2 linked regions of the Homo sapiens genome follow. The protein of the gene in region 2 purifies or fractionates together with the protein of the main gene of each other region. This does not show direct contact. Each region holds a gene or a part of one and is shown on either strand. Other genes may lie near its edges.

The links. The genes of interacting proteins can lie anywhere in the genome.
Region 1: the proteins of RBKS (region 2) and RPE fractionate together in Homo sapiens (co-fractionation; one large-scale study listed by BioGRID). This does not show direct contact.

What each region holds. Positions count from the first base shown.
Region 1 is NC_000002.12:210,011,946-210,016,968, forward strand, and holds part of RPE (ribulose-phosphate 3-epimerase), read left to right. Parts: intron 1-4,027; coding exon 4,028-4,167; intron 4,168-4,258; coding exon of another isoform or gene 4,259-4,312; intron 4,313-4,561; coding exon 4,562-4,696; intron 4,697-5,023. UniProt on the Homo sapiens protein: Catalyzes the reversible epimerization of D-ribulose 5-phosphate to D-xylulose 5-phosphate.
Region 2 is NC_000002.12:27,837,585-27,842,607, forward strand, and holds part of RBKS (ribokinase), read right to left. Parts: intron 1-5,023. UniProt on the Homo sapiens protein: Catalyzes the phosphorylation of ribose at O-5 in a reaction requiring ATP and magnesium. The resulting D-ribose-5-phosphate can then be used either for sythesis of nucleotides, histidine, and tryptophan, or as a component of the pentose phosphate pathway.

The sequences.
Region 1 (5,023 bases), about 180 Mb from region 2:
TGTTGTGATAGTAGGTGTAAGTCACTGAGCCCGACTACCTTTGTTTTTTATATTGAGAAACATTTGTTTAATTCTTGGATTTTGGTTGTTGGATAATTGATACATGAATGTATTCTAGGACCTAGATTACATGTTGTGTTGTATATGTAACGCTAACATTCTTAACTGTTCAGTTTTCATATTGAGTAGAAATAAATGTCTAAGAAATACAGTGATGGGAAAAGTCTGTTCCTGTTATTGTCTAAATCAGTGATCCTCAAGTATGTTGTATAAGGACCCACACAAATCCTTAAGACCCTTTCGGGTCATCCATGAGAGTATATCAAAACTATTTTCATAATCCTAAGAAATTATTTGCCATTATTTCTACTGATGGTACAAAAACATTGATGAGTTAGTTTGCTGGTGCCTTAACCAACTCAAGGCAGGGACTGTATCAGGAGTTATTCTTCATCATCATGCATTTGCAATAAATATCCTTGATGAAGCAGTAGAAATTAATAAATCTTGGTCCCTGAATACATGCCTTTTTAATATTTTGTGTGGCAAAGTAGGAAGTGCATATAAAGTGCTTGTGCTGCATTGCTGCATACTGGAACATAATGGTTTTCTCAAGGAAAACCACTTGCACCATAGAGGTGTGATCTGAACTAGCTGCTTTCCTCCAGAACACTATGTTTGTTTGAAAGAACAACTGACAGATCAACTATGGTTTTTCAGACCTGGCTATTTTAATGACATTTAAAAAATATTAACTAAATGAGGCTGTCTCTTCAAGGAAAGATACCTTGTCAGTTTTTGTTCCCAAAATTAGAATTTTAAAAAACTTGTGTATCTTACCACTCTGGGTTTGATAGCGTCCCAACAGTTAACAAGCTTTTCTGATGAGATCTGTAGTTATTTTACCAAATGTGATTTTGGGGTACTATGGAATGAAATCTGTCACTATTTGTAAGATGTGTGTAACTCAGTAAATCAGTACTTAAAAGACCCATTCAAAATACAAGACAAACAATGGGTTTTAATGTAACAAAGAATGAAAAGCTCATTGATAGGGTTTACAGAGTGCACACTGCAGCTAACCTTTATAAAATTACCACCCAGCACATTTAAGATAGGCTAGGCTAAGCTATGATGTTTGGTGTGTTAGGTATATTAAATGCAGTTAGAGATAACAGTATTTTCAATTTAGATTGAGTTAATTGGGATGTAACCCCATTGTAAGTTACAGAACATCTGTATTACAACAGATTAGATACAGAACAGATGTGAGAATATAGGTGTCTTCTGTTAAGCCAGACACTGAAAACTTGCAAAAATGTAAAACAAATAATACCACTCTTAATTAATAGGTAATAGAGTTATCCTTTTTTTTTTTTTTTTTGAGACAGTCTTGCTCTGTCACCCAGGCTAGAGTGCAGTGGTGGCCTTCATACCTCACTGAAGCCTCAGTCTTGATGGGCTCCAGCAGTCCTCCCACCTCACCTCTCCCCTCCAGTAGCTGGGACTGCAGGGGCACACTACCATGCCTAGCTAATTATTCTGTTGTTGTTGAGAAGGAGTCTTACTATGTTGCCCAGGATGGTCTCAAACTGGGCTCAAGCCATCCTCCCTCCTCAGCCTCCTAAGATTATAGGTGTGAGCCACCAAACCCGCCAAAAATTACATGCTTTAAAATGTCTTAGTTTGAATTTCTCATACATTAAATATCTATAAATATAATCCATATCAACAGAAGTTTCTTGGGGTCTTTAATAATTTTTAAGAGTGTAAACTCCTGGGCTCAAGCAATCCACTTGCCTTGGCCTCCCAAAGTGCCAGGATTACAGGCTTGAGCCACCGCACCTAGCCATATATAGTGTTTTTTTAATGTAACTTAGAATTTAATAGACCTTAGATTCTTTTTAATCAGCATATTGTTGACCAAGTTTATGAATAATAGATTATGATTATAATAGATGATAGAATGATTGGGAATTGCTGATCTAATGTTAACTATGCACAGATTTGCTGAACCATTGACTCCCTGAACACCATAGAACTTCTCCATTGAGGGTTGCTAGTGGTTACTGGATGCTAGAGGTTGAGTAAGGATGACATAGCTAGCAGTCTGGTAACTTAAGGAATGAATAGAGTAGGTTTTTTTGTTTTTTGTTTTTTTTTTGAGATGGAGTCTCGCTCTGTCGCCCAGGCTGGAGTGCAGTGGAGCGATCTCGGCTGACTGCAAGCTCCGCCTCCTGGATTCACGCTGTTCTGCCTCAGCCTCTCGAGTAGCTGGGATTACAGGCGCCCGCCACCACGCCCAGCTAATTTTTTTGTATTTTTAGTAGAGATGGGGTTTCACCGTGTTAGCCAGGATGGTCTCGATCTCCTGACCTCGTGATCCACCCGCCTTGGCCTCCCAAAGTGCTGGGGTTACAGGCGTGAGCCACCGCGCCCGGCCTGGAGTAGGTATTTTAAACCGGCTTGAATTTTCCTTGTTTATGATGCAAAGAATAAGAAACACCAGATTTAATACATTTTTTTAAGAATAAAGTTTTACCTATTAAAATATGTTCTAATTTAGGCCGGGTGTGGTGGCCCATACCTATAATCCCTGCACTTCGGGAAGCCAGCGTCAGAGGATCACTTGTGGCCAGAAGTTCGAGACCAGCCTGGGAAACAGTGAGAACTCATCTCTATTAAAAAAAAAAAAGTTCTCATACAATTACTTTTGCTGGATTAGAAATACAAACGTTAATCTTGACTTTATTAGTCAAGCTTTATACTTTCTTTTTCTGACTTTTTTTTTTCAAGGCTTTATTGTATTTCATAATTGTTCTGAAATGTTAGAATTTTTTTCTTAAATATAGCTTGGCTGTTTCAGAAATGTGCTTCCTCTAGCAAAATAAAAAACTTAAAACCTCTCCTCACTACCATCTATCAAACACAGGATTCTTCACAGTGTTATTTCTTGGTTTAGCTTGTTTTAAGCTGCCCTCTCCTTCTTATGAAATGCTATTATGTTTTAAATCAAGATCTTTAAGAAGGCCATGCCCATTTTCACCTTATGTGTTTATATGAATCAAGCTTTAGAATTAGGATGAATATCAGGTTTCTTGCAGTCAACATGTCCTTCCCCCTAAATTTGTTCTTGCAGTCTTGCCTCTCAATTAATGGCAGTTCCGTTCTTCTAGTTGATAAGGTCAAAATCCTTGATGCCATCTTTATTTTCCTCTCATCTATCTATCCATGGAGGATCCTCTTATCCTCCACATCTCATCTATCCTCAGCTCTCTTTGCTCTTATTTAAGAACATATCCATCCCGAATTGCTGCCATCATTTTTCACCTGGGTTATTGCTATCGTAGCTTCCTCAGTCGATAGTATCTTGTCACTTCACTGTGGTGGTTTTTCCCAGTGGCCTGCAGAATGCTGAAGGGTTTCTCCTCACCACATGCTTCCCTGACCTCTGACTGGTGTATCTCCTTCCCCAGGCACACCAGCCATATTAACTGCCAACCTAGTGTGCATTTTACTTACTTATTTTGTTTATTGTTTGACTCTCGCATTAAGAATGTAATCCCTATGACAGGAGAGTTTCATGTTTTTGCTCTAACCCTAGGACCTAGAATAATTAATGATGCAGCAATAGCTCGATAAATTGAAAGAATAAATGAAAAGGATCACTTAATTTTTCCTAGAGGAAACTAGTTTGCATGGATAGTATGACTTATTCTTTAAGTTTTTTAGAGTGGCATTTCCTGGACCTGGACCTAGATTTCCTGATTTTTAGATGTTAACTTTTTATATACAGCACTGTATGCTTTTTGTGGGAAAATAGTGTTTTTTGTAAATGAATTTAAATAAATCCTTGTCTTCAAAATAAGAGGAAACTACCTATACTGAATTAGAACTATTTAAATAATGATTTGTGTGATGGCCAAAGAGTTCTTATCAGAAGTGGCAAAAACTACATACAGGTTGGCTTCCAATAACATGAGCCAGGTATTTTTCAGTAATATTTTGAAGTGTCTTTTCTTTCTAGACATGCACATGATGGTGTCCAAGCCAGAACAGTGGGTAAAGCCAATGGCTGTAGCAGGAGCCAATCAGTACACCTTTCATCTCGAGGCTACTGAGAACCCAGGGGCTTTGATTAAAGACATTCGGGAGAATGGGATGAAGGTAAGAAATCGTGATGAGAGTGTTTTGTAACATTCACTCTCAGTTGGGAAGATTTGCGGGAAACAGGAAATTTTCTCTTTTTTTGATACAGTCTTGCTCTGTCACCCAGGCTGAAGTGCAGTGGCACAGTCAGGGCCCATTGCAGGTAAAGAATACCTTACTTAAGCAGCTGTTCTTCAGCTATGATGCCAGGATTTAACTTCTTTGTCACATAGCATTTATGTATTCCACTAAAGTTTTCTGAAAGCTACTGCTTGTTGAAAATACTTACATTTAATAGTCTTGTTAACTTTTAAAAAATAAGAACAGATATTTCTACTGGGCCTGCTATGCCACAATAATATAATACAGAAGTAATTGTAAATGTGATATAGCATATTTGTGTCTGTTACAGGTTGGCCTTGCCATCAAACCAGGAACCTCAGTTGAGTATTTGGCACCATGGGCTAATCAGATAGATATGGCCTTGGTTATGACAGTGGAACCGGGGTTTGGAGGGCAGAAATTCATGGAAGATATGATGCCAAAGGTAAAAGAAGTATTTGATTTTGGGGTGAGGCTTTTACAGTGTGTTCATTCAGTAAGCATTTATTGAAAGGCTTGTATATTTAGGCATAACCTGTTCTGAAGGTGAGGAGATGGGGATGCTTACAGATCATTCTAATACAGTATAATAAATGCTGTAATAGATTTCTGATTTGGAAATCAGAGAAGTATTACATCTTTATCTTGAAATTTTCTCTTTCTTTGAGACAAAGTCTTGCTCTGTCACCTGGGCTGGAATGCAGTAATTCAATTAGGGTTCATTGCAGCCTTGACCTCCTGGACTCAAGAGATCCTCCTGCCTCGGCCCCCT
Region 2 (5,023 bases):
TCAATGGTGGACTGGATAAAGAAAATGTGGTACATATATACCATGGAATACTATGTAGCCGTAAAAAGGAATGAAATCATGTCCTTGGCAGCAACATAGATGGAGCTGGAGGCCATAATCCTAATCAAATTAAAATAAGAACAGAAAACCAAATACCACATGTATTCACTTATAAGTGGGGGCTAAATATTGAGTACGCATGGACAGAAAGATGGGAACAACAGACACTACAGAGTACTGGAGCAGGGAGGGGCACAGGTTGAAAAGCTACCTATTGAGTACCGTGCTCCCTACCTGGGCGCAATACTCCCATGTAACAAATCTGCATATGAAGGCCTGGTGCGGTGGTTCATGCCTGTAATCCCAGTACTTTGGGAGGTTGAGGCAGGTGGATCACCTGAGGTAAGAAGTTCAAGACAAGCCTGGCCAACATGGTGAAGCCCCATCTCTATTAAAAATACAAAAATTAGCTGGGTGTGGTGGTGCCTGCCTGTAATCCCAGCTACTTGGGAGGCTGAGGCATAAGAATCACTTGAATATGGGAGGTGGAGGCTGCAGTGAGCTGAGATCATGCCACTGCACTCCAGCCTGGGCGGGCAGAATGAGACTCTATCTCAAACAAACAAAAACAAAACAAAAACAAGTCTGCACATGTACCCCCGTGTCTAAAATAAAAGATGGAATTTAAAAGTAGAAAAAAAGACTGGCCACATGTTGGTAACTGTTGAAGCTAAATGATAGTATATATAGGTTTACCATACTATTCTCTGTATGTCTATATATATTTGAAATTTTCCACAATAAAAGCAAATTTTAAGGAAAAAATTACATTAAAATTTAGGTACCAATTGCTAGAATAAGGAATTCCATAATTTTACTGTAAATACTGTATAAAAATCAACCTTATTTGCCTGTACTTTACTGAGGGACAGCATTCTTCAATAGTAACTGGATACATAGGCTTAGAGTCTGACTGGTAACTAAATTTAGGGGAAAAGTGTAAATGCCATAAAGAAAGCATTCTTCTCAGCTTGTGCTACCACAAATGAGCATACTCCACCATGATGAAAGAAACATAAATTAGTAGATGCAGTTAATCAAAGAAGAATGCAAATCTGTAATAGACAAGGTGGAAGCCATGATGTCATCCTGGGACCAGGCAGAGCTAGAGAACACAGACTGTACCATGGAGTAACTTGGAGTTGCAGAGGTGACTGGTAGCACCCAACAGTAATTATTATTAATTACAGTGTCAGATGAACTAAACTCCTAGTTATCTTAACTGCATGTTAATGGATAGCACAATAATGTCAATAAGGAACTGGTGAGGCCTGGAGGAGCAGTTGTATAGGCTAAAAGGCAGGAAAATGAGGCAGAAACTCTTTATGGTGTTGTCACGGAGGGCAGGGGCTGGACAGTTAGGAAGGCCCTAATTATTAGCTCAGAGAAACCGGGGAAGAAAATCACCCTGAGTGAAGACACTGTGAGCATGTTGGGACACTCAAAATACTGGCTTTGCTGTCCATTACTCTAGAGGCTCTTTTCTGTGACTTGAGCAGCAAAAACACTCAAAGCTTGGGCTATGTGCTGGACAATGTCATTGTGAAAGTCTGGATGGCCAGATAAGAAGTTTTGTTTGCCAAAGGCAAAAGGACTGAAGTGGCATTAAAAGATACTTTGTATCATACTGATAATTTAACTTTGGCAATTTTACAATCTCAATTATTTATAATTGTTTATGTACTGTTCCATTTGCTTGGAAATGGATATAAAGACCAGAACCAACATGCATAATTTCATCACAAGCAGCTGCAGCACTGGCTCTTCAGTGGGCCTACCTCATAGCTTCATGGCCTGGTGGGGATGGGGGTGGCTATACAGGGCTACCGATTTTTGGTGTTGTAGCTACTATGTCTTTAAAAATCAATGCTTTCATTTTGATAGCGACAGAGAGTTTTGAGACAGTATATTCAAAGATGTAGGGATCTTTTCCTCTGGATTTTCATAACTGATATATTAGCATAATCTAGTTATGCAATGTGCTTAATTCAAAATTCACTACCTGTAAGCAGTAAAGATAATGGAACTGTGATAAGAAAACCCATAGATGATGATGACGATGAAGACTTTATCATCGTTCTTGAAGACGGAATAATGCTGTTCAGCACATAGGCAGCTTCCTGGGGCAGTGGGTAGGGTGCTCAGTGCTCAAGAGATCATTAAGCCCACTCTGCTCTGGGATCAGTCCAAAGTGACATGAAAGAACTGTGAGAGCTGTCAGCCCAATTCTGGTTTCACAGAAGAAGAAAATGACGTCCAGAGTGAGGAACTGACTTACTTGACTGAGATCCCCCATTTGCTGATTGATTATGAATTTAAAGCCATATTTCACAATTCCCAAACCAATGGTCTCCTTTCATTATACCACTCTTCTTCTTTTTTTTTTTTTTTTTGAGATGGAGTCTCGCTCTGTCACCCAGGCTGGAGTGGAGTGGCGCGATCTCAGCTCACTGCAAGTTCCGCCTCCTGGGTTCACACCATTCTCCTGCCTCAGCCTCCCGAGTAGCTGGGACTACAGGCACCCACCACCATGCCCGGCTAATTTTTTTGTATTTTGAGTAGAGATGGGGTTTCACCGTGTTAGCCAGGATGGTCTCGATCTCTTGACCTCATGATCCACCCACCTCGGCCTCCCAAAGTGCTGGGATACCACTCTTCTTGCATATGAGAATGATGATGCATTACACACACACACACACACACACACACACGCGCGCGCGCACACACACACACACACACACACACACACACCCTCCTCATGGAATAGAATCTAAGCTGCATCTGGCCGGTATCTACCAAATAGGGACCAGCTGACTTGGCCAGAGAAAGCCACCGGACTGGAGGAGTAATGGACACATGAGTGTGTGTGCTTGTGTGCATGTGTGTTCGTGTGTGTGTGTGTAAGTTCTATTGGGGTTACAGTGCTGAAAACACTGTAGAGCCTCTTCTCTGTTTCTTGAGCAGCAAAAACACATAAAGCTTAGGCCACGTGCTGGACAGTGTTAAAATTTATGGACTTGACTTTTCTAGAGATACTCTTCATAAAGGCTCAGTTTGTTGGAATCAATGGGTTGTGGCACTTTAAAGTGTGGTTTAAACTAGGAGACAGAACTTGGGTCTTAGAGTCTGAAATCATGGTTTCTTCAACTTAAAGTGCGACACTGTTTGAACAAATGACTTAACCTCTCAGTCTCAGTCTTCTCACCTTTAATCTGAGAGAACAATGCCTGCCATATCTTTGTCATAAGGTTTTTCTGAGGGTAAAATGTGTACGAAAGTACTTTATAAGATGTAAAGTACATATAAATGCATGGTATTACTATTTCTGCTATTATTATATAAGGAAGTTCATGCAGAATTAATACCAAGGCATGCTGGCTCTTAATAAAAGTGTGAAGTAGGCCAAGTGGTCTGTGGCCCACTGTCACCTACCCCGCTTCCTGCTGTCCTGGGTCCTCCAGCTCCCAACTGGAAGAGCTACACGGAAGGTGATGGAGGAAGCCTTTCTGGACCCCACCCAATGACAGCCCCAGGGTAGGCTGCCTGCCCATCCGGATTACTCTATTCTCACCTGTGAAAGGTTAGCTCCTCAACTGTGGCTGCTGTATCTTTCTCTCCTTCACAAGCAGGGTAGGTAACAGGCAACTAGACTAGGACAGAGGGAACAGTGATCTCTGAGCAGTAAGGGATAGTAGGAAAAAAAGAGAAGTTACACGAGAATGTGCTTTGATCTATACAAAGAAAGACAAGAGCAGGAGCAGGGTGGCACCCTGTATTCACATCACTCTGCTGAGATGGGCACGGTGCAGAGAATGCGTAACCATAAGCATTAGACTTTACTGTGACACTCCAAGAAAATGGAACCAAATGGGTTTTGGCTTAGAATTCTTTCTGACAGCTTCATGTCCATTAAAAATACACTAAATGTCAGGGAAAATTTACCACAGCATGTTGTTTTGCCAAGAGGAAAATTTGTTAAATCAGGACGAACATTTTAAAATTCTCCACAAAATCATTTCAGTGACTTATTTTCCATTTATTTCTATGTAGAACACTACACACTTTGGGAGAAATCACTTATATAAACACACACACACACACACACACACACACACACTGTTCTTTTTCTTTTTTCTTTTTAGTTTTGTATCTTGAGAAATAGTCAGTGTGGTTCTCTATTTTATTCTTTAAAAAAATCACAGAACTATTGCCACAATATCAAGAAGTCATCATGTTAGAGTGGCTACTATTTATTTTGATTTTTTTCACCAAATGATGCTTGATCAGGATATTATCCTAACTTTAAAGAGAGAAGTGGATTGAAGAGGAAAAAATTGGGATTTACCACCATGTACTACACCATGCTTGGCATCCTATTTTATTTTATTCCATCCTGAGAACAATTCTGCAGATGGAGTATTTCTATATGCATTTTACTGAAAAGGCTCAGACAAATCAGGTAATTCTGCTAGGACCACGAAGCTGACAAGGGACAGAAATGGGATTCTAATTCAGAAGATGCTTTCCCCACTAGTCAGTGGTGAAAAGGAAGCAAACAAATAAATCATCTGGATTTTTAAAAAGTTTGTTATTTGCTGGAGGTGAGAAAAGAGGAGTGAGTGGGAGAAAAGATGAATCAAGATTAGCTACAGGTTGATAACTGGAAGCTGGGTGATGGATTTCACTGTACAATTCTGCTGCTTTTGTAGGTTTGAAAATTTCCAAAATCAAAAACAAAAGAGGCAATGTCAATGGACATTGATAACATAGAAAATATTACATATAAATAATCTTTTGTTGTTTATTGAAAGATGATAAAGTTTTACAAAAAGGAGAAAAAACCTAATCTTCAATTCCTAGAGATGTTTGTCAAAAAGTAACTGGGCTGCCCCAGTTACTTTTGTATGTATGCATGTATTTGTATGTATGACATGCAGCTTAACCTCTGCTTCTCAGAGTAGAA